Linked DNA regions of Homo sapiens. The protein of the gene in region 7 interacts with the protein of the main gene of each other region in a biochemical or structural test. Each region holds a gene or a part of one and is shown on either strand. Other genes may lie near its edges. The genes, in order: SH2D3C, FRMPD1, ERBIN, ADGRA1, SLCO1C1, RCN2 and GRIP1.

What was found.
Region 1: the proteins of GRIP1 (region 7) and SH2D3C interact in a test that uses a peptide from one of them, tested with the Homo sapiens proteins (one large-scale study listed by IntAct).
Region 2: the proteins of GRIP1 (region 7) and FRMPD1 interact in a test that uses a peptide from one of them, tested with the Homo sapiens proteins (one large-scale study listed by IntAct).
Region 3: the proteins of GRIP1 (region 7) and ERBIN interact in a test that uses a peptide from one of them, tested with the Homo sapiens proteins (one large-scale study listed by IntAct).
Region 4: the proteins of GRIP1 (region 7) and ADGRA1 interact in a test that uses a peptide from one of them, tested with the Homo sapiens proteins (one large-scale study listed by IntAct).
Region 5: the proteins of GRIP1 (region 7) and SLCO1C1 interact in a test that uses a peptide from one of them, tested with the Homo sapiens proteins (one large-scale study listed by IntAct).
Region 6: the proteins of GRIP1 (region 7) and RCN2 interact in a test that uses a peptide from one of them, tested with the Homo sapiens proteins (one large-scale study listed by IntAct).

What each region holds. Positions count from the first base shown.
Region 1 is NC_000009.12:127,744,167-127,747,666, forward strand, and holds part of SH2D3C (SH2 domain-containing protein 3C), read right to left. Parts: intron 3,106-3,500; coding exon 2,981-3,105; intron 934-2,980; coding exon 398-933; intron 1-397. UniProt on the Homo sapiens protein: Acts as an adapter protein that mediates cell signaling pathways involved in cellular functions such as cell adhesion and migration, tissue organization, and the regulation of the immune response.
Region 2 is NC_000009.12:37,706,454-37,709,953, forward strand, and holds part of FRMPD1 (FERM and PDZ domain-containing protein 1), read left to right. Parts: intron 1-962; coding exon 963-1,120; intron 1,121-1,945; coding exon 1,946-2,048; intron 2,049-3,500. UniProt on the Homo sapiens protein: Stabilizes membrane-bound GPSM1, and thereby promotes its interaction with GNAI1.
Region 3 is NC_000005.10:66,076,575-66,079,810, forward strand, and holds part of ERBIN (erbin), read left to right. Parts: intron 1-300; coding exon 301-375; intron 376-1,848; coding exon 1,849-1,956; 3' UTR 1,957-3,236. UniProt on the Homo sapiens protein: Acts as an adapter for the receptor ERBB2, in epithelia. By binding the unphosphorylated 'Tyr-1248' of receptor ERBB2, it may contribute to stabilize this unphosphorylated state.
Region 4 is NC_000010.11:133,101,424-133,104,923, reverse strand, and holds part of ADGRA1 (adhesion G protein-coupled receptor A1), read right to left. Parts: intron 2,679-3,500; exon of another isoform or gene 2,586-2,678; intron 2,228-2,585; coding exon 2,082-2,227; intron 1-2,081.
Region 5 is NC_000012.12:20,733,332-20,736,831, reverse strand, and holds part of SLCO1C1 (solute carrier organic anion transporter family member 1C1), read right to left. Parts: intron 1-3,500. UniProt on the Homo sapiens protein: Mediates the Na(+)-independent high affinity transport of organic anions such as the thyroid hormones L-thyroxine (T4), L-thyroxine sulfate (T4S), and 3,3',5'-triiodo-L-thyronine (reverse T3, rT3) at the plasma membrane.
Region 6 is NC_000015.10:76,948,749-76,951,820, forward strand, and holds part of RCN2 (reticulocalbin-2 isoform a precursor), read left to right. Parts: intron 1-321; coding exon 322-474; 3' UTR 475-3,072.
Region 7 is NC_000012.12:66,669,077-66,672,576, reverse strand, and holds part of GRIP1 (glutamate receptor-interacting protein 1), read left to right. Parts: intron 1-3,500. UniProt on the Homo sapiens protein: May play a role as a localized scaffold for the assembly of a multiprotein signaling complex and as mediator of the trafficking of its binding partners at specific subcellular location in neurons.

The DNA.
Region 1 (3,500 bases), on a different chromosome or scaffold from region 7:
TTCAAGTGATTCTCCTGCCTCAGCCTTCCAAGTAGCTGGGATTACAGGCGCCCACCACGACGCCTAGCTAATTTTTGTATTTTTAGTAGAGACGGGGTTTCGCCATGTTGCCCAGGCTGGTCTTGAACTCCTGACCTCAGGTGATCCGCCCGCCTCGGCCTCCCAAAGTGCTGGGATTCAGGTGTGAGCTACCACCCCCGGCCTTTTTAAAAGGAGAAACTGGAGGCCCAGTGAGGCTAAATGACCAGCCCAGAGTCACAGAGCAGGCAAAGGACAGCCATGGAGCTAGAATCCAGGCCCACCTGCTGTACTTGGGGAATCTGGGAGCCAGCTTCTCACTGCCCTGCCCCACAGAACAGAGATGCTCCCTCCACCCCAGTGCACAGCCAGCACCTACCAGGCAGTCCACCTTGGTGACATGCCGGGCCAGCGTCCGGGCATCCACTTCTGCCAGCAGCTCCTTGACCTTGCGCAGAAGGCCCACCTCCAGTGGCCGGTTATCCCTGGGGATCAGTAGTGACTGGAAGGTGGCCGGGTTGAAGGAAGAAGTGACTTCCACGATGGGGACTGTGAAGGTCTTGCCCCAGTCCCCTTCAGGGGCCCCATTTTCTGACAGTTCCTTTAGCCTCTCCCCATAGCTCCTGGCCTGCTGGCTGGAGGTCTCAGTCGCTGCCCACTCTCGGCTGCCACGCACGGGAGGCTGGAGCTGGCAGTAGTGGCCAGAGTCCGGGTCACTGTAGCTGCTGAGTGATGGTGACGGGGAGGCCTTGCCAAGGGTGTGGGAGGGGCTGGTGTGGGGGCCCTTGTCTGACTCCCCATGGGTCTTTGGGGCACTTCCGGGACACAGCTGGGGCTCACTGGAACGGCGGGCGACAGGGGAGGCAGGCAATGCTGTGGCAGAAGGGGCTGCAGGGGCGGCATGGACACGGGTTACTGCAGAAAGGTAGAGAGAGAGGCCCCGTTATAGCAGCTCCCCACCAAAGTGAGATTCCCGCACCCCTTCCCAAAGAACAGGCTCCCTCACTCCTTGTAGGGAGTACAGAGGTGATGTCCCCACCTCCCTGCATCACCAGAGACCAGGGCCGATTGACTCTGGCAAGCTGACCAGCCCAGGTGATGCTCTGAAATCACCAGGACCCAGGAGTTTGCATGGCCCCACCCTGAGGCTGCTGCAGCCTTGGGGACCCACTGCTTGGAGGAGCTTCAGTGATCCGGGGAAGCTGAGTACCTGCTGGAGTTTCTTGTGCCACATGTGATTGTTTCTCGACGAATTAGCAATAATGATTTCCTTTTTTTTTTTTTTTTTTTTTTTTTTGAGTCACTGTCTCGCTCTGTGGCCCAGGCTGGAGTGCAGTGGTGCCATCTAGGCTCACTGCAACCTCCACCTCCTGGGTTCAAGCAATTCTTCAATTCTTGAGCCTCAGCCTCCCGAGTAGCTGGGATTACAGTCATGTGCCACAACGCCTGGCTAACTTTTTTTTGAGTCAGAGTCTCGCTCTGTTGCCTAGGCTGGAGTGCAATGGCATGATCTCAGCTCACTGCAACCCCCGCCTCCCAGGTTCAAGCAATTCTTGTGCCTCAGCCTCCTGAGTAGCTGGGATTACAGATGTGCCCCACCATGCCCGGCCTGAATTAGCAATAATGATTTGTTGCTAAACCTTGTGTGCTAGGAGCTGGCAACATGCTGGAGACATAATGACAGTAAAACCATCATCAAACCTCAAAGGCGATATTTACTAAGCTCTTAGTGCCTGCAAGACCCTTCTTTGTACCTCAGTCTATTTAATCCTTTCAATGTCCTATGAAGTAAGTACTTTTATAATCCTCATTCTACAGATGAGAAAAGTGAAGCTCAGAGAGGTGCACTAACCTGCCCAAGGTCACCCAGCCAGCAAGTGGTACAGCTGAGATTTAAGTCTTGACATCTGGGCTGCTTTACTATACCAGATTGCTTAGAAACTGTCCAATAAGTCATTCTGGCAAGGAATTTTAGGTTTTATACTCAGGGTATTGCTTTGAAATCAAGTTTGTAGTTATGACAAAGTTGGTGGCTCTGTGTTTAGGGAAGGATTTGTGACAACCGATACAGACAGCAACACTTCAATGGAATGCCACCCTAGGCGAAAGTTCCTCCTGAGTCAGCCCCCTCTCGTGACACTTGGCCTGCCACGTGGACAATACGGCCTGTTGAAAACATTCTTTTTATTTTTTTTCCAGAAATGATCTATTGGAATGTTTCTAACAGAGAAACTTTCTTCGTATTTATAAGAAAGCACAGTGTTCCGTACTTTCCACTTAATTTTGCTGCAAACCTAAAACTGCTCTAAAAAATAAAGTCTATTAAGAAAAATAGAGGCCAGGTGCAGTGGCTCATGCCTGTAATCCCAGCACTTTGGGAGGCTGAGGCGGGTGGATCACCTGAGGTCAGGAGTTCGAGACCACCCTGGCCAACATGGTGAAACCCCATCTCTACTAAAAATACAAAAATTAGCTAGGCATGGTGGCACACGCCTGTAATCCCAGCACTGTGGGAGGCCAAGGCAGGTGGATCACCTGAGGTCAGGAGTTCGAGACCACTCTGGCCAACATGACGAAACACCGTCTCTACTAAAAATACAAAAATTAGCCAGGCGTGGTGGCAGGGGTCTGTAATCCCAGCTACTTGGGAGGCTGAAGCAAGAGAATCGCTTGAACCCAGGAGGCGGAGGTTGCAGTGAGCCAAGATCCCACCACTGCACTCCAGCCCACAAGAGCAAAACTGTCACAAAAACAAATAAATAGTTGCTAAATAAACAAACCATGGATACATCTTATATGTTGATATCAACAGTTCTGTTAGCAGGATTCCAGTGTCAGTTCTTTCTCTTGGTAAAGGTCGCGCCTCATAAAAGAGGCGGAAACACACATAACCACACATAGGTGACAGAAGTCTTCAACAACAGATTCCCTCCACCTGCTCCACCCCCTCTGCTGGCCATACCAGTGCTGTAGGCAGGGGAGCTAGGGCTCTCGGAGATGGGCGACATGGGTGAGTGCAGGTCTGGGATCTGGTCCATGCTGAGGGCACAGCTGCGGATGGAGTCCCGAGGGCGGGGCAGCGACGTACTGTGGAGCAGACACCATCATGGGCAGGGAGCCCGGAGGTCAGGGGCCTCAGCCTGCCTCTGGGACCCCCCACCTCTGCACCTTGAACTTCAGAGGCAGAGAAGGCTTGGAGATTATCAAATCCAACCTCCCGACTGACAGGTACCAAAAAAACTGAAGCCCAGATGAGGGAGGGGGCACAGCGAGTCAGGAGCAGAGCTAGGAACCCTGGTGGCTAGAACGCCTGGTTTCTTTTTTTCTTTTTTTGTCTTTTTTCTTTTCTTTTTTGTTTTTTTTTTCGGAGATGGAGTCTCACTCTGTCGCCCAGACTGCAGTGCAGTGGCGTGATTTCAGCTCACTGCAACTGCTGAACCTGCCTCCCGAGTTCAAGACATTCTCCTGCTTCAGCCTCCGAG
Region 2 (3,500 bases), on a different chromosome or scaffold from region 7:
TATTACTCCTTCACATTTCTGTTGTTCATAATGACAATAAACACCTCATCCCATCACTATTTGACCTTCCTCAGAAAGAACCACTGACTGTTAGAGGGAAAAATCATTTGCCACAGGTGAATGACAAATAACTTGTGACTCGCTTTGTGGTTTCTCTCTTTGAGAGATAGAAAATATTACTTTCCTGCTTTTAAGGAACATACATGTTTTAAAAGTTGATATAGAGGGAGTCCTTGCTATCTGAGATTTTATATTGGAAACCTTGCAGTTACAAAGCTTAAAGGGAAGCAAAATTCATCATAAAGAAACAAAGAAAAACATCACCAAAGACAAAATCTTGCTATAAAATTATCCGTCATCAAACATCTGAACCTGACAACTCCTTGTTTCTGCTCACCATCCATGTTTTTCCTCTCCTGTACCTCTGACTCCAGCAGTATGTCCTGCCTGGGATGCCCATCTGCCTGTTCTTCTGTCAGTCCGTCCATCCATCCATCCATCCATCCATCCATCCATCCATCCATTCATTCATTGATTCACTCAGCAGCAGTTATTGAATATCTTCTGTGTGCCAGGATCTGGGCTGTATAGGTATACCCTAGACATGTCTCAGAGTGCAGCTCAAATGCCACCTCTTCCAAGTACCAGATGCGTCCCTGATTCCCTATTCCCTGCCCTACAAAGGTGAAACTGCTCTCCCCCTTCTCTGTGTGTCCATAGCACTTCCTGGGCGCTTTCTAGATATTTAGCATTAGCTCATTAAGAATGCCTGGCAATACGACTTCTCTTTTAGAGGACAGTCCTAAGTTCTGCTAGTGGAGTTGGTGTCTTATTTGTCTCAAGAGGAGAATTGGTGTCTGCTCAGTTCTGCATCTTTCTCCATGATGCTTAGGGCTGACCCAGTTCGTGACCAACAACTAGAGTCTTCTCTTTCTCTTTTTTACATACTCCTTCTCTTCCAGGGCTAAAGTTGCTGCAGCTGATGGGCCCGCCAGGAACCCAACTCAGACCCTCATCCCTGTGCGACACACAGTAAAGATAGACAAAGACACCCTCCTCCAGGACTATGGATTTCACATTTCTGAGAGCCTTCCCCTTACAGTGGTGGCTGTCACAGCAGGTAGGGGATGACTGGGAAATGAGAAAGGAGTTTGGTTTCTTAAGGGGAAATAGCCCCAAATCTCCCCGATCTCTCTATCCTATAACAAAATGCAGAAAATCCTACCTGGGAAGTTAGAAAAGGCACACCTAATTCTGTCTTGGGCTTTGCACCTTACTTTGATGCTGGGAGGGAGGAAGCCTCAAGTGCACTTGCCGCTCCAAACCCCAGGCTCCCACTGGCCTTGGCTAGGGCGTTGCCCACCCTTGGCTCCCTGGCTGGTCTCAGGGGCAGTGAAAGTATTTGGCTAAGCTAGCCTTCCTCTTTGAACCCCACACGCTCCTAGCTGGGGATACTTTCTGGTCAGACAGTAATAGAAACCATTGATTTGTTTTCATTTGAACCTTGTGAAATACAGGCTGTACCAGGGTGGAGAGGAGCAGGTGGGGAAAGTCCAGTGCTTGTTTTCATAATTGAGGTGTGTTAATCTGGGATTCGTTAAAATGTATTGATTTCTATTTACTACACATACACACCAGAGTTTTTTAGAGATGAATGGAGTAGATTTACTGGCCAACTCTATTGATTTAGAAGGTTTCTGCTAGTTTTCTTTCTCAGGACAGTCTTCTAACATCCCTGGAAGTTGGTGATAGATGATAGGTACATTATCCATGGTTTATAAACAGGAAAATTAAGATCCACATGAGCCCAAGCCTGACTGAAGGCGGGGGAGTGAGCCAGTGCCCCTGGGAACTGGATCAGGGTGCCATTTAACTGTGCCGCTATTACACATAGAGTCTGGGTCCTCCCGGCATGAGCACCAATTACTTATTTTCTGTCCAACAGGAGGCTCTGCTCACGGCAAGCTTTTCCCTGGTGATCAGATCCTCCAAATGAACAATGAGCCTGCTGAAGACCTTTCCTGGGAACGAGCAGTCGATATTCTCAGGTACTAAATGGTCTTCCATCATCTACAGAATTGCACAGATTATCAAAGAACAAAGATGGGCAACAGGAATGGCATAACTGATCCCCTGATTTTAATAAGGCTAAGTCTCCTTTAAAGCAGCAAAAACAGCCTCGTTTTAGAGTTCCATCTATTAAAACGGCTTCTTGTTAGTGGCTGTTACAGTCCACTCTCTCTCACTTGCCTACAAAAGAGCTTGGGAGGCACAGAGTGCTGTATTTGTCAAAGCCCTGCTATGCCCAAGACACCGTGCTAAGCATGCAGGGAATGTAATGATCATAAATAACCCACAGGCCCTACCCTCTAAGGATTTATAGGCACGTTGTAACATATGCCAAAGATTGAACTAAATTGATGCCAAATCTGTTCTTCTTTATCCCTCTTGATATATCTTCTTAAATATAATTGCAGGTGCATCTTGGTTGGCATATATGTAGTTTCATTGATGTAGCACCTCCAAACCTTCTGTCTGGTGTCATTGTGACTTATGAAAATGCCTCGCTTTTTACCTAGACAATGATTTCCTGAGACCAGGGCTCAGTGGGTGCTCAGTTAAATGAGTGAATATGGTTAGCGCTGGGAATTGGCAACCCAGACTTTAAGACGGAGGAGTGCCATTGATAGGAGTGAAGAGGACAAGCAGACATTTTAAGGGCACATGAAGCTTTGGCTTTTAAATTTTTCACTCAACATTGTTCTAATGACTAGTATAAAGACAGACGAGAATCAGAGGTAGATGAAAGCTAACTTGAAGAGATATATATATATATATAAAATTCAGTTTGTGATTTTTCATGAATGGCTGATCTGGCTTTGGGGTGGTATTAATTGTTTTTTTTTCCCTTTTTTTTTGAGATGGGGACTTGCTGTGTTGCCTAGGCTGGTCTCAAACTCTTGGGCTCAAGTGGTCTTCCCATCCCAGCTACTCGGGTGGCTGAGGCAGGAGAATCGCTTGAACCCGGGAGGCAGAGGTTGCAATGGGCCACGATTGTACCACTGCACTCCAGCCTGGGTGACAGAACAAGACTCCATCTCAAAAAAAGAGAGAAAGAAAAAGAAAAGAAAAGCCAAGGAAATACACTGTAAATGCTGGAGAGTCCTCCAACTTGGGCAGAAGTTGTAGGCTGACAAAACAGAGAAGGGCCCAGAAATATTTCAGTTGTGTCTTTAATGCTGGGTAAAATTTGGTCCAAAAGATGGAGGTGAAGGGTGATTCAGGCAAAGAGGTAAACAGAAGCAACTGGGTGGGAAGTAGGGGCTGCTGAGCAGTTCAGTTTGCCTGCAGAAAAGTTCTAGGAAGTGAAGTCCAGATGATAGAAGGTCTTGAATGCCAGCACAGCATGTTTCAGTGTGATTCTCCCCCTGGAAGGGCGAGCAGTTGAAGGCTTCTGAGCAGGGATGCATGACTTGAGGTGTGCTGTGCATCTGTACCCT
Region 3 (3,236 bases), on a different chromosome or scaffold from region 7:
AGTTAAAACAATTTAACCAAAAACTATGAATGTTTATGATATAATGAAATGATTTTTAACTTTCTTATTGCTTTTTCACACACCTATAAAAGTAATTTTATTACTCTCAAGAGAAATCACTAAAGTCAGAATTACTAGAGGTAAAAATAACTAGTTTGTTACAGTATTACTCAGAGAAGTCAGGGAGAAAACTTGTACCATGATTCAAATATTTGCATGGTGTGGAGGAAAAATTGCTCCTTGGTACTCTGTTATTTATACATACTGTTTTTAGTTAAATAATTTTTTTTGTTGTTAAAGGGTATATTTGTAACAAGGGTACAACCTGAAGGACCAGCATCAAAATTACTGCAGCCAGGTGATAAAATTATTCAGGTAATTAAAATAAATCTTTTTTTTTTTCATTTTATAACACTCTAATGTTTTCACAGTTTAAAATGTTTTCACTTTAACTTTGAAAATTGTGGGTGGGAGGCTGAGGCAGGAGAATGGCGTGAACCCGGGAGGCGGCACTTGCAGCGAGCCGAGATCGCGCCACTGTACTCCAGCCTGGGCGACAGAGCGAGACTCTGTCTCAAAAAAAAAAAAAAAAAAAGTTTGATACATCATAGGATTTTGTTTAAGCTCAGGAATGTTAATTTTTACTAATTTGAGGGGGATTAGAGTACCACTTCTTGGATGTGGGCTATTGTCCTTTCAGAAATGGAGAAGAAAAATTTTAAATCTGCGAAACTCATTTTTTCCTGTCCCCTCCTTTTCTTTGTTCATTCAGCTACTCATTTTACCTAAACACTTACAGTCTTAGAAGGAAGACAAACCTAGGACACAAGTATAGCTCTCATTTTCTACCCCTACTGTCACCGTTCTTAGCTGAGAACTAAAGAACTTAAAAAATAATCCTCAAACCAAAAAAAAAGGGAGAGAGAGACATTAATGTCTAATAGCTGAAAGTACAGATTCTGAAAGCCAGACTGCCTGAGTTTAAATTCTGGTCCCAACACTTTCTAAAAATAAAACTAATTAAAAAAAATTTTTTTTGAATAATTTTAAGCTTAGAAAAAAGCCACAAAAATACTACAACAAACACCAGTATTACATCAATTGGTCACCAGTCGTTCATAATTTGCTACATTGTCTTTATCATTTATTCTCCTCTTTCTTCTCTTTTTCTCCCTCCCTCCCTCTACACACACACACACACACACACACACACACACACATACACACACACACACAGTCACACTCACTCATACAGTTATACACATTTATTTTTCTGAACCATTTGGGTTTCAATTTGTGACTGAGCAAGTTACTTTGCCTCTCCATGCCTGGGCTTTCTCTTCTCTAAAATAAGATAGTGAAAGAATCTTTTTTGAGCATTATGAGAATCAAAGGATCTAATTCATATTACACCCTTAGAATTGTGTGTTTGGTACACAGTAGAACCTCAGTAAATATTAAGCTTAATTGTAAGAAATATGGTGGTCTTGATGTGATGGCTCCAAGACAATGGGAAGAGTAGCCCTTGCCCCCTGCTACGCTACAGTTTGGTCACCTCAGATACACATTAGCATTATACGACACCATGTCTGACATTATTTCTTAAGTAAGTGATTTCTAACATTGGGCTGCTACATAAGAATTGGCTGAGAAGTTGGACAAAATACACATTTTTAGACCCCATCTTCAGAGACTTTATTCCTTGGTTTGGGTAGGGCCTGTGAATCTGTATGTTATTTTAAGTTGCCAAAGTGATTCTTATTTTCTTCCAAGTTTGTGAACTACTTGGCAGAAATGCAAATAAATAACTATAAAATGTTTTTCCTAAAAGCATTTTTCCTCTTCTAGGCTAATGGCTACAGTTTTATAAATATTGAACATGGACAAGCAGTGTCCTTGCTAAAAACTTTCCAGAATACAGTTGAACTCATCATTGTACGAGAAGTTTCCTCATAAGCACTGTGGACAAAAAAAGCGGGGAAGACAGCAAGATTTATTGGAAGATACTTACAGGGGAAATTAATATTTTGACTATTTTTATATATAAAGAAGAACTCAAAAAATTATGTTCAAATTTGTACATTAATGAAATAATGGAACTTGTGGTTAGAGGGAAAGAACCACTGTACAGAATATAAAGGAGACTGTTGAATTCATACCATATAAAACTTGTTAGGTTTTTAAACATAGCAATCAAGGCTACAAAAACAAACCTGTGTTGTTTTTGTATAGATTGTAGGTTTATTTTTGGATTTCATATACATGACTGAACTGTGTGCAAGGCAATAGTTAGCCTTGATTTTAGCCCAGAGACAGATGGCAGAGCTATCTCTCTCATAGCTTTTATGCCCTTATTTTTATTCAACTGGTATTAATGTTTTTCTCCTGAAACTACTTTTTTTGATGTGGGCAAGAGATTTGAAGTGTTGGCTTTTGCTATGTGCATATTGAATTGAAGAGTGAGTAGGTGAAGGTGGTGCTGGTGGGTTCACTTTCCAAGGCCAGACTAAAACAGTTATTTTCTATAAAAATCTGGAAGCAAAGAATGGGGATGGGGAGAGCTACGTGGTAGTATGTTTTTATTAGGAGAATAATGCAATAAAATATGTAATGTCTTTTTTATAAAGCAAAAAAGACAATAATTGCATTTATGAGCTCGGCAGGATCTGTTCTTGTCATAGCCATTGACTATACATTTGCTACTGGTGATTCAGTTTTTAATTTTTTAGTCACAGGAAATTTTTAACTCTACTGTAGATGCATGTCCATGCATTTTCTGTGTTATGGAAATCCACTGATTTTTTTTTTTTTTTCAAATGGTGGTACTTGCAATCTGTTTTATAATTAGTGCTCCATTTAAATCTAATTTATAATTTTTATTTTAAGCAGCAAATGAAACAAAAATGGCCAGTTTTAAGATTGTGTTGCCTGTAACACAAAATGTTACGAAGGTTTAGGAAAGCCTCTTTGATTTTTGTTTGGCCTTGCATTGCCTTGGTAAAGTAAAAGGAAACAGTACACTTGGAGCTAGGAAACCAAAGCAAGCTTTGTGAAACTGGCACAGTGATAGAGAATTGCTGTGGAGAGTTATAGAGCAAAGGGATGGGTCCTTGAGGCCTGCCAGTGTGTAAAGGTGTTCAAATAAAGGGCTGTTTCTACAGGTAACATTAAATGTGAACTCAACACTTCCAGAGTCTTTAAAGGGTTTCTATGTGTATCAGTGTAATAGTGTTTTA
Region 4 (3,500 bases), on a different chromosome or scaffold from region 7:
TCCAGCCTGCTGGCCTCCCTGAGGAGGTGCAGCCCAGTCTCCCAGCACAGTCCCCCAGCAGCCCCAGGCCCAGCCACGGAGAGGGCAGGCCCTCGGCAAAGCCCAAGCTAACACCGCCCACCACTCCTGAGTCTGCACCTGCCTCAGGGGTGCACAGGCTGAGCCCTGGCCAGACACCGGGGGGGCGGCTGGGGAGGCGGAGCGACGAGGCAGGCCAGGAACCAAGGAACACAGCTGGAACACGGCACTGTGTGGACACCCCCTGCCACAATGTCAAGACCTTTCTTACACAGGAAGGGGGCCCAGAGGGCAGGGGGTGGAGGATGGGGGTCTCCAGGCAGCCCCAGGAGGAAGCAGTCGCCTCGGCACCATGGCCGCAAGCAGGGCCTTGCCGTCGCTGGGTCCGCCGGTCAGTGCCGAGCCCCGGGCCCGCTGGCCCCCCAGCACCTGGACAGACGCACGGCTCTGCGGCGCGCATTGGCAGACACCGGATGGAAGAGCGCCGGGGTGTTCCACGGCTGCCAGCCTGGTCTTCAAAACCAGGCAGCTCTTCCATCAATTACAGATGAGGAAACGCATTTTGAGAGTGATTTATACACCCAGGGGACCTGGGGCCTCCCTGGCAGGAGAGGCAAGATAATGAAACCCTACCTCCCCAGCCCCCATCAGCGGCAGAAGCACCACCCAGCCCTGGTTGCTAAGTGGCAACGTGTCTGCGTGGATCTGAAAATCAAACAGTGTCAGAAAATGCTCCGGGTGCAAATGAGTGCTGTTTGCTGGAACAATACAGGACGTGGCTGTATCTGCCTTGAAATGAATTCTTCAGACCGTTTTGGACGGGACAGTGCCGGACAGCCCTTCCGAGGAAGCAGGTGTCCGTGCGCCAGCACCGGGTCACGTCTCCCATGCAACCGGATGAATGTCCTCCAAGACCCCCTGGGACCGCTGGCCACAGAGCAGCCTCTGGCGGGGGTGCCTCACACAGGGTGCTACTCTGGGCAGGCATTCAGGGAGCCCCAGGGAACCCCAGAGGATGGGCCAGGTAGGCACCCAAGGCCTCGAGGCCACGCTCCGAGCCTGGCTTTCGCCAACTGTGTCTGGGATTCAGTCTCAGTTCAGAAAAGGAAACACCAAAGGCGCTGGAGCTCCCTGGCGAGCTCCGGCCTGGTCACGGCCGCGGCCAGACCCCCGTCTAAAGCAGCTGTCCCAGCTCCCTGACCCGGCTTTTTCCTGCTGGTGCAGAGGAGCTCCTGCCACCTCCCAGACGTGGACGTCTGGGTTCCCCTGGCTCTGGACTGAGGGAGAGAGGGAGGGAGGTCTGTGCCATCATGGGCTGTGTCCGCCCCCCTAGGCAGGCCCATGGTTCCCACAAAGGCCACGGTGCATTCCCAGCCTGAGGATGGATGGGGACCAACAGCTGGTGCAGGCCGCCGGGGCGGCGGGGGAGGGCGAGTGTCCCATCCCAGCAACCGGGCCTCACACAGCAGAGACACTGGGGGACCACACCTGCCTCCTGGCCTGAAGGGCCCAGGCCAGGGCCACCTTGAAATGAGTGCCTGAGTGTGTGAGGTTTTCCACCCGCTGACAGTCAGCTGCCTGATGTTACGGAGACCATGAAGCCGAAGCCAAAACCACCAGAGCCCGTTTCCCCAGTGTGGCTGCCCTGCGGGGCATAGAGGGTCTCACGCCAGCAACTCGGTAGCACAGGAGGCTTGTCCAGCCCCCAACACACGCCAGCCCCAGACCAGCCCCAGAGCAGCCGGGCTCCAGCTGCAGATGTGGAGGGCAGGGCACCGCCTGCCTCAGACTCCACCCGGGACCCTCCACCCTCAGGGCCCCCTCTGCCCCACCCCCAGTGACCGGCGCCCCTCCCCTCCGGCGCCCCTCCCCTCCAGCACACCACCCTACCCTCAGATCCGTCGCCCGCTCTCCACCCTCCCTGGGAACACTGACCCTCCCCCATGGACCGGATCATCCTCAGGCCCCTGGTGGCCTGGTGAGAAGGTTTGCCAAGACCCAGAAGGTGCATGCAGCGTCCAGGGCCCAGGTGGCGGGGCCTCGCGCCCATGTGCACTCAGTACCTGAGCAGGGGCTGCCTGGGGTACGGTGGCTGGTCTGTGTCCAGGCACAGAGGGGCCTTCTTGGTCACCTGCTTGTAGATGTTCCTGGCGGTCACTCCTATCCACAGCATGGTGGACAGTGTAGAATAGTGCAGCACGATGCCCACCTGTGGGGGAGCAGCGGTCAGCCAGGCCCTTGGCGGGCACCCACCCCCCAGAGCCCAGCAGCCTCGGCCCGGGCTTGCAACTTCAAGAATGAGAACGGCAGGCGGCCAGCAGCGTCTGTATCCCAGGGCAGGCAGCGGCCGCCCCACAGCCGCCCAGAACTCACAGGGAGACGCTGAGCTGCAGAGACCCTTGAGCGGCTCAGCTTTCCTCCCCTTCTGCACAGAGACGGGAGCAGGGAGTCTGTGGGGACCCATGGGCCTGTGCACTCACGCCCCTCTGCATGCACAACCCGCTGTGGTCCCTGTGGCCCAGGCACGGACACTGTGAGCTGCAGACCAACGTCCCCTGAGCTCAGACCTGGATAGGTGTCCACCAAGGGAGAGGAGGTGAAGTCCTCAGTGGGGTCACGCCAGGATGCTCTTACTGTGGGTAGGATGAGCCCCCCACGGGGACGGCATTCGTGTGGCCCTGCAGGTCGCCGTTCCTCATTCACCAGGATGCTCTTACTGTGGGTGGGATGAGCCCCCCACGGGGCCGGCATTCGTGTGGCCCTGCAGGTCGCCGTTCCTCATTGCTATGGAAACTTCCTGCGTTTGCTTATTACGAGGGCCACACTGCTACCTTTGGAGTAATAACCTGACATTTTGAAATGACAGGTAAAATACTGCTATAATTGGAAAGGACATAAATGTTTAAGGAATACAGAGATTCGCCGCATAAAGCTAACGTCGCACCATTATGATGATTTATCAGATCCAGAGCTCAATTTTCACTGATGAGGAGGCTCTGCAGTAATTGATGAGAATATTGTGGGGTGGGCTGGAAAGATCGGAGGGCTGCGTTTGCAGTTTCAGGTGAGATCCCTGTGCGCCGCTGGGGGCAGGAGACACAGCAGCCCCCGGGGGGCTCCACCCTTTCCCCCGGCCTGGCCACTGAGTGTGGGGTCGTGTCCCATCCCAGTGCCTAGGCCTCATGCAGCCTGGTGGAGACAGGGAGGCCTGGAAACCATGGGGCACCGTGTCGAGGAGTAGGGCAGAGGCAGCCCCCACAGCCCGGCCTCGGGTTCTTTCTTTTCAGGAAGCAGCCGTGGGGCTGTCAGTGTCACTGCCCGGGGCGCTGAGGAGGGTGGCAGAGCTGAGCCTCACCCGTGCCATGTGCATTTGGGGGTCACAAGAAGGTGTACGTGGCAGAGCTCTGAGTCCTGGACACCGACTTCAGGCTGGACAGATGGAGAGGCTGCAGGGAAGCCACCAGCGTCCCACGGTGCTGCAC
Region 5 (3,500 bases), about 46 Mb from region 7:
TAATATACTTCTGTGCAAAGGTGTATAAAAATAGCTAACAAGGTAGAAAAGTAAACTTTTAGAGCAATTTATGACACTACTTCAATGCATCACAGGTGGGGTGTGTGTGTGTGTTGTGTGTGTGCAAATTTCATTCAGAATTGTTGTCTAAGTATGAGTGGAATGGATATTACTAATGGTCCAGTAAAAGGAAAAATAGCCAATCAGTTATCAGTTAATTCTCTTTCAGTGTTTGCAGGAGTTACATGTCCTCTTGCATGTGTGTAACCAACAAGTGCATTCCCAGTTCATTCAACCTTTCTCCTGTGTATCCTCCCAGTGTATAGTGCTCTTTCATATCTTATAGCATCCTTTCTTACTCAAATTCACAAGTAAGTTCAATGACTTACCCATTTATTTGTTGATAAAATTTTACTGGAAGCCTACTAAGTGCTAGCTCCGGGAGAATAGGAGATGGTTACAAACATTAATGAGACAAAATTTGCACCCCCCCCCAAAATTGGTTTTTTTGAGTTATTTCACAAAATTGTGATTGCATTCTTTCTTTTCTCCTTCATTTTTTTTTGTTCTCTGCCATTCGCTTTTATATTTATCCTTCATCTCTCCCAGTATTCTCTCTCCCTCACTTTTTTTTCTGTCACCTGAATGGCCTAATCCTTCTGCTTTTATCCTTTTTTTTGCTATTCATATTCCTCTACTCTTCTCAAAAGGAACTTTTGCAATGGTATGTCATTTCTATCTGCACCATATGTGCCATTCATTGGCCCTCCATACTTCATTTTTTCTGCTCCTTATTTTCAAATTTATTTATTTGCTTATTCCTCATATCTTTCCTCCCATTTTTTATAAAGATAGCTGAGGAGCTTAAACAAACAAAAAATACACTGAACTGTACAATCAAGAGAGGCAGGAACTATTTTTGTATTCACTCCCATATGTCCAGAACCAGGAATAATTCCTGTCACACAGCAAGCTAAGAAACAAAATTTCCAGTAAGTTAGTCAATTAAAAAATGGTACTTTATTTTGGAGAAATAAATTAATCACTTGAGCCTCTGCCTCTGAGAAGTATTGTCATTAATGATGGCAACCATAATTTCTTAATCAGTGTAATACTTCATCTAGTAGAACTGGTATGATGAATTTTGTCACCTCAAAAGTACAAACCAAAGACCTCTGAGATGTCTCCAAATAGTGTGAAAGGGTACTGAACTAGGCCTTCTGAGATGTGCTATAGGAATGTTTAATCCTATTCTCTTCCATAAAATTTTAATTGTTAACTGAGACTGTTTGTATTATCTGAAAGTATAAAACTGCCTTTTAAAGTCTAGAATCATTTAACTCTGGAAACTGTAGGGCTGAGATTATAGAAGGTTGGAGCTGGAGGGAACATTGGAGTAATCTATGCCAACCTCTTACTTGGCAGATCAAGGAAGTCAGCCCCTACGTGGGTGGGTAACATGCTCAAATTCACACTGCTTGCTAGTGACAAACCTGGAAACTGAACCCTGCCAGGTTTCTTGATTGTAAATTCTTATGTCCACATCAGAGTTGTCCTTGTTATTGCAGAAGAGAGATTTCTTCCATTATCATATCTAAGACTTGTCTTCAGTTTTCCTATTGAATATTCAGGTCAAGACAGCGTTTGGAATAAAGCAACATGGAAAAACCCATGGGAAACATTTTATATTTTATAAAGAAAAATACTTTATAGTATTGAAAGTTTAATTTATCATCAGGGGCAGGAATCATTGGGATACATCTTTTCTGAAGGATGTGCTGACAGTAGATTTGTAATTTAGAATTTTAATTATAAGACGAGTTTTAACAAATATGCCAGAATGTTTATGCCCAAATGAGATTTCCTTTCAAGATAGTTATGCTGAAAGATGAGAGCTTTTCCTTAAAGGTTAAATCTTTGCCCTTGTTAAGAATATTCTCAAAAATATACAAAGAAATTCAAAATAAGAGTCTTAGAATATTTTAAACAACAGTAGCATTACTGCAATACAATTATAGTCTTTCAAGGTGACTCCTTTGAAGAGGCTAGTACTCACTCAATGAAAATGTTACCTTTTATTTGTTTAAAATATTTAATCTTTGATTATGTAGGAATACTTTTAATGGGAATCTCAAAGTTTGCTTTTGTTGTCTGCTTTGTGTTTACTTTTGGCTTAGAAATTATGATGCAGAAAGAATGTTCTACTTTGAGTCACGCCTGTGTTCAAACCCCAGATCCATGCAGTTTCTTTTAAACAAGGATAACAAAACTAAACTCATAAAGGTGTTTTGAGGATATAATGAGATCATGAAAGTTAAGGTGTTTTGGAAATCACAAACTATAAAGTCCTCTACAACTGTCCCTCTACCGTGAGGATTTCTGGGACAGTTAAAGATGGCACTGGGCTTCTGCTCTCTCCAGAATCATCTTCCATTTCATTGTTACAACTAACATTCTTAATCCATATCACTGACTTTCACTAAGGCAGCACTACACTCAGCTGAGTCTAACAATGTGGCTGTGATAACTCCCAGAAGCCGTAATTTATGAACTTTGCATTCACCAATCTTCCTGAACATTGTAGATGGCCAAAACTATAACAGGCGCTCATTTAGCAGCAGATGAAACCAGGTTAATAAAGGTGATGGAAGTTGGAACATAGAGACAAGACAGATAAGCAGGGAAGCAAGAGTAGGACGGGAGATGGACAGCAGGCTGTAAGCAAGAAGCCACAGAATAGGCAGGAAACAGAATATAGTGTCAGGAGTGTTTGCTTTTGAGCCACAGGCAGAGTTTCAGGTGGCCAGGCAGATACAGTTGGGAAGGCCTTCCTGGCACATGATGGAGACTCGATAATTTTTTTAGAAAACAAATAATGCATATATAGGTGAAATGATGAAGAAAGTTACCTCTGGAAATTCATGTGAAGTGGTAGAGTGATGGGAAAGACTCTCAATGGGCAAGGGCAATATAGTTCCTACAAGATTCAACCTTGTATTGAGAGAGACTCTGGAAACCAAGCAATGTAATCACCCACCCCATACAAGATGAGAGGCCTGAAGGCATCACTAAATATTCTCCTGACCAATTGCAAGACACTCAGCTAAAGAGAACTTTTATGGGGAACACTGGGTTGAAGGACAGGCGTTGTTTCCTGAAACTTTACATGATTCAAGCACAACAGCAACTATGGAGGATTGCAAAGAGGTAACTCCAGTTCCTCAGATGTTCAAAGGAGGAAGAAAACAATTGTTTCCATGAATGGCACATTTAGCTTGTGTCAGGCAAGTAGCATTCACTTTCATGTATGTTAGCTTGCTTAAACCTTACAAAAGTTTAAAAGGTAGTTATTACTTCTGTTTTTAAGATGGGAAAATTGAAGTTGGATTAGTTTAAACCACATGTACATCATTTCATTAAGAATAGACAGAGGCATTATTCAAGGTTTGTATTTCTGCTATCATGTTGTTTTTCTAAATTAATCAGGTTGGTTCTCTAGT
Region 6 (3,072 bases), on a different chromosome or scaffold from region 7:
TAATTTGAGAGTACAGTGAATAGAATAATAGTTTGTATTTACCTACAGGGACTCAAAACAGGTTATAATAATTTTTCATTGCCTTGATATATCCTGGATTGGATTTGAGTGGAGAGAGACAGAACCCAGCAGAAATGAAGAAAGGAGATAATGGGAAAAGCAGTAGACGGACCTGGTTACAACGTGTAACATTTTTAGATACTTAAACAATAATGAGTACTTGTACACCTGGATGATTTTGACAAGTCAAATCACATTAAATTGTGAACATCTTGCTGAAAATACTTATTACACTTGACACTTTTTTGTTTTATTTTGAAGGCGCTTCATCTAATTGATGAAATGGATTTGAATGGTGACAAAAAGCTCTCTGAAGAAGAGATTCTGGAAAACCCGGACTTGTTTCTCACCAGTGAAGCCACAGATTATGGCAGACAGCTCCATGATGACTATTTCTATCATGATGAGCTTTAATCTCTGAGCCTGTCTCAGTAGAGTACTGGCTCCTTTTATAATTTGTTACCAGCTTTACTTTTGTGATAAAATATTGATGTTGTATTTTACACTCTTAAGTCTTAACCACAGTCAGAATTATCTTAATGTAGATTATAATTTTGGTCTTTTAGGAAAAAAAAACAAAAATCTGATATTTATTTCAAAATGTATTGAAGCAACAAAATATTAATATTGTGCCATATGACAACAAAGTCTTTCCTAAATACTCCATCTGTTTAGTACTGTATTGTGGAATATTTGAGTTCTATTTCCATACTTGAAAACATGGAGGATTTTAGAGATGCCTGAACAATATTATTTAAGTAGTATGTGACCGAGCTATAAATTTTTGTTTTTGTTCTAAGTAGATTTAATTTGGGAACTGACAGGACAATGTTTTTAGGTTTAGCATTTTGTTTAAAAACCTTTAAAGAAACCTTTAGAAGGACTTAGACCTCACATATTAATGTTGAGAAGTTCTGCTTAATTTTAAAATGGTTTCTATAAAGGGTTTTATTGTATGAAATAGAACTTTATATTTTTGCATATGTATAGATAGTAATTATATTTAATGTATAACTATAGCATTATGGTGAGTGGAATTTGACATTGTCCAAACCTTTTTCATTTTTGAGTGATTAAAAATGAAATGTCCTTTGTATATGTTTGTTTGCTTTTCTTTAACTTTCAGATAAATATTGAATTTAGCATAGGTTTTGTGGTATTGTACATTATCTTGCCTCATCCATTCCTTTATGTGGATAGTTCCCAAAACTGTCAAATTATTCTTGCTGCATTTTCTTATTTTTTTTTTAAATAAGAGAATCATGTTATAATATAATTGAATGTGCACCTGACACATTTTAATAATTGGTGTTGTAGCAAATGTGGTTTTGCTCTTTGGGGCTATAAATAATCTTGAGTAACGCAGGTTGGAATTACCAATAGAGCTGGTCAGTTATCAACAGTAGAGCTCAGTATCAATTTTACTGAAATTAAAATCATACTTGATAAGCATGATAATCAATTTTAACCTAATTCAGCAGGTCAACTTATTTAACTTTGGTGGAGGTGGGATAGGGAAAAGTGAAGGGAGGAATTAATTTTTTTCTAGTTCTGATGTACAGAGATTGTTTTTCATTCTTTTTTTTTTTTTTTTTTTTGTGACAGAGTCTTGCTCTGTGGCCCAGGCTGGAGTGCAGGGGCACTATCTCGGCTCACTGCAAGCTCTGCCTCCTGGGTTCACGCCATTCTCCTGCCTCAGCCTCCCGAGTAGCTGGGACTACAGGCGCCTGCCACCACACCCGGCTAATTTTTTTGTATTTTTAGTAGAGACCGGGTTTCACCGTGTTAGCCAGGATGGTTTCGATCTCCTGACCTCATGATCAGCCCACCTCGGCCTCCCAAGGTGCTGGAATTACAGGCGTGAGCCAACGCGCACGGCCTCTAGTTTTTCATTCTTTAAATCACTTTTATTTGTGGGTGAAGAGGTCAGCTATGCATTCTCTTAATCACTTTCCAGCCTAAAGTTGTCTCATATACAGCACACTGGGGGCTCAACAAGTACCTATGACTATTTGAGAAGACATGAAACTCTTCTCTGATAGAATCGACTGCACCTATATACCTCTCTACTGCCGCATCTTTGCTGATGTGAGGTGTGCTTGCAAATTGTAAGCTTCCACACCTTAATGACTGCTTGCTTGGGTATCTACATGGTTTTCATTTTAACCTACACTATATGTCTGGCTATAGCAGTTTTAGAATTACAGATTTACCACTATCACTCATCTGTCATTTGTCAGACTCACTGAAGCTGGCATATTTGAAATCACCAGTTTGACTAGTTAACTATTTGTTTTTCTCTCTAGCTTCTCCAAAATCTATGCCAGAATAGATCATCAGATATGGATTATATTTCAATCCTTTGCAGAAATGCAATGTCTGTACTACTTTCCTTCCTAGCATAAAGAAAACTACACTTCCCAGCCCTCTTGTAGGTAGGCGATGGCTAGTTCTGACCAGTTAAACATGGGTGGAAGTAGTGTGTGTCACTATCAGACTATCTCATGACAAACCCTTTTCCTCTGCCACAGCACTGTGCAGGAGGCCTCAGCTGAAATGGTGCAGCCACAAGATGAAAGTGGCTTTGATCTTGAGTCTGTGTAGGTCAGCTGGATCCACAGTGGGCTTTGTATGATCAAAAAATAAGCTTTTAATTATGTTAAGCCACTGAGATTTGGTTGTGCTTTTTTGTTTTTAACCACAGCAGAGCCCATCCTGCTGTGACTGAGTGAAGATTTCACATTTAACAATAGGCTTTTAATAAGCATGCAGAGAAAAAGAATCATCTGCTTGAACAGAGATGCTATATCTACTGCTGAGTCAAAATAGAAAATTTTAAGGCTTTTTTTAGATTTGAATTTTAAATAAGACTTTTAAAATAAAGCTTTTATTTTGGTTTTAATATAATTAGGATAATTTGAATTTATCCTTGAGCATGAGAGTAAAAATAGTTTGAGACTTTCTGAATCATTGGCTGATTCTGCCTGAAGGACTTAATGACTTCCATTATTT
Region 7 (3,500 bases):
CTTTATTAAATATACAGAAGAAAATCTTATTTGCAGATTTTTAAAATAATTATTTGTTTCAGTATCGCATATATCCAAAAAAAAAATGCACCCAGATATTTATTACATGTAGCTCCTTAAAGGATGTTACTGCACCCTTCAAACCAAGGAAACTTTGACCTTGCCATTACAAAAAGCAATAAAAGCAGTGGTCTTGGATGTCTCAGTCAATGATGACCACCTAAATTCAGGCAAAGCTCGGGGTATTAGAAAGTGAGAAAGAGCTTCTTACTAATAATTCCAACTACATTATTAAATAGCTGAATATATGAAGAATACAATAAGTTACATTTGTACTAAGGAAATTTCTATTCATTTTCAAAACAGATGAATTAGGAGAAAAGGTAAAACTAAATATCACTAAAGATATGTTGTCATCATAATAATGGAAACCAATGGAGGAAAACAAATTGATTTACAAATTATTATGCTTTTTAATAAGTTGAAATTATATGTATAATACATGTTTTGTCTTACATCTTCTTCCTAATATTCTGCCCATTTGTGCACATTAGCACACACTTGTCATAGGAAACTGTTACTGTCTCTGTAGTATTTCCTTATGTGGATAATATATCTTTAGTTTGTTTCCCAGTTTTCAGTCTAATACATGATACTGAATTGTCTTTAAAGAATTTATTTTGTGCTTTAAATTGTTGCCTTCATGTATCTTCACTTTCAAGTCTTCTGATACATATTGTCTGAGAAATGTGTTTAGGATACACGTCCCACACATTTTCCCCAAGGCTTTCTTAAGCTAATAGAGGTGGCAGAGAGAAAAACAGTGGGAGAAATAGCGTTTGGATACCGTAATATCTAAAAACCAAAGCAAAGATGAGAGAAGGAGAGGCGAGAAGCAGCCCTTCTGTTTTGTAAGTGGGTCATTGCTGACCTTTGAGAGAACAGTTTTCACAGGGTATTGATGTCCAAACCAGATTATAAGGATTCTCTGCATTAAAGGCAACAAGGGCAGACCACTCTTTTAAGAAGTCTGAAGGTGAAAGTTAGGCTGTAGATGGGCAGCAGCCTGTGGGGGTGGAGGGCGGGGTCATGGGGGATAAGGAAGGCTATTATAGGATGGGAGAAATCTGAGCATTTTTTAAAAGGATAGAACCAGTAGGGAGGTAAAATTTCAAGATGCAAACTAGAAGAGGGATGAACTCTAGAACCAGGCAAGACAGTGTGAGTGTGAGACCACGAGACAGATGGCAGCCAGCTAGAGTGAGCAAGAGGGACACTCTTGTCACAGAGACAGGAAAGCATAGGAAGAAAGACTTTGAGGTGGACATTAAGGAAATTAATCAAACTTGACTTTCTTAGTAAATCAGAAGATGAGTCTAAAATCTCCTATTTTTATGAGCACCCAATTCAGGGGTTTCTAAATTTTTCTCTCCATTGGAATTACCTTGTAACCTTAAGAAAATAATGTTGCCTGGATCCAACCCCAGAGATTGTGATTTAATTGCCTGGAAGTGTGGCCTGTTCTTTGGCATTTTAACACATTCCCCAGGTGACTTTACTGTGTTAGCTGAGTTTGGGAGCCATGGACCTAACGTACTGGCAGCTTCATAGAGATGCTACTAGATATGTTTCAGCCAGAGACAAGCCCAGGAATTTTACTCAGCTGCTAGAAGGGAGAAGCTGAGCAGATATAAGGGCTATGAAACTGCTATAGCCTTCCTGTGACTTTGAGGGCAGAGCCTGTCTGAAAATGGCAGTGGATCCAAAAGAAAGAGACACCATATCTGACTGTCATCACTTCAGCCCCTGCTCAAGAACTACCTTAAGGGAGCTCTGAGCTCTCCCTTAGACTTCTTCAGTTAAGTTAGCCATTAAATGTCTTTAACACCTAAGCCCATTAGAGCCAGGTCTTTCTGTTATTTGCAATCAAAAGAGGCCTGATACAGGTTATAACGCATTTGTGTGTATACATTTTGGTGAGAGTTTTGAAGACATAGTTTAAAAATGACAGTTGACTCAACCATTTGCTGAGTCCACTCCTGAGTTGCTCTCATTCCACAGAACTGTGTGAACACCCCTGCAAATCTGAGCCTGCAGTCCTGTATGAAGTTATGAGCGCCACTGCTAACGTAGGATTTCCAGTGGATCATTTTGTTAAGTCTTCAAGTCTGCCCTCCTTGGCAGTCCACATCAGCATAGACTGGAAGGAATGTTCCATGGGGATGGAAATGAATATTGTAATTTTCATGTGATTTTTTGTCCTTACTATTTAGGGACCTAAGGGCTAACTGATCTCTCCCTTTCTTCTCCCCTTATGCGGAAGGTTATTATATGGAGAAAATAGTTGAAAGGCAGGGTTATAAAGTTTTCTGCTTTGGTTGTATGCGGTGCAATGTTCTGAGCATCTCAGCTCTTCTCATTGCTCCCTCTTCTCTTCTGTTACTTGTCTTCTTTCAATGCTAATGGACATAGCTACTCATGCAAAGGAGTTCACCCTCATTTGTATGGTGCAGAAAGTCTGTTGCCCTAGCCCACAATGAAGAGTAGACTTCATTGGTTAAAGTCATCTTCTATGGAGCCAATTGTTAAATGTTAAAGAATTTTTTGAACTAGCTTGTAAACACAATCATTTAAAATTATATAAATTTGCAATTAAATGATATTAAAAACGGAGGTAATGAATACTAACAATTCATCATTTTCTAATCATTACTACATTTTATGTTCTGTGCTCTTGAAGTCTACTCTATCTATGTGGGAGAGCTACTCTATAATGGTGTGCCACACATCTCTTAGCAACTCCACATTCAATGACATCAAGTTGGTAGACTGAAATTGGCCATAGTGGGAGTATTTACACCAGAGACATTGATGGATGCTATAAATCAAGGCATGCCCCGACAAAGCCACTTGTTAAACATTTACCAGCACACCACTGAATAGGTACTCCTGCTCTGTGTATTCATAAACCTGTATAGATGGCTTTCATTATGCTTTCTACATTTGATGATAATTCTTTGTTTATCTGTATACAACCATCAGACTATGAATTCCTTGAAAATTAGTATCCATGCTTTACTTACCATTATGTCACTGGCAAGTACAAAGTATTTGGTACAAAGAAAATGCCCAATAAGTATCTGTCGAATGGATAATGTTAATATTTATTTATTTATTTATTTATTTATTGAGACAGAGTCTCACTCTGTCACCCAGGCTGCAGTGCAGTGGCACGATCTCAGCTCACTGCAGCCTCCGCCTCCTGGGTTCAAGTGATTCTCTTGCCTCAGCCTCCCGAGTAGCTGGGATTACAGGCACCCATCACCACACCTGGCTAATTTGTTGTATTTTGGCCCGGCTGGTCTCAAACTCCTGACCCCAAGTGATCTGCCCACCTTGGCCTCCCAAAGTGCTGGGATTACAGGTGTGAGCCACCATGCCTGGCCAAATGATGTCAATTTTTAAAGATCTCCGGGCTTAACCAATCCCACACATTTGTT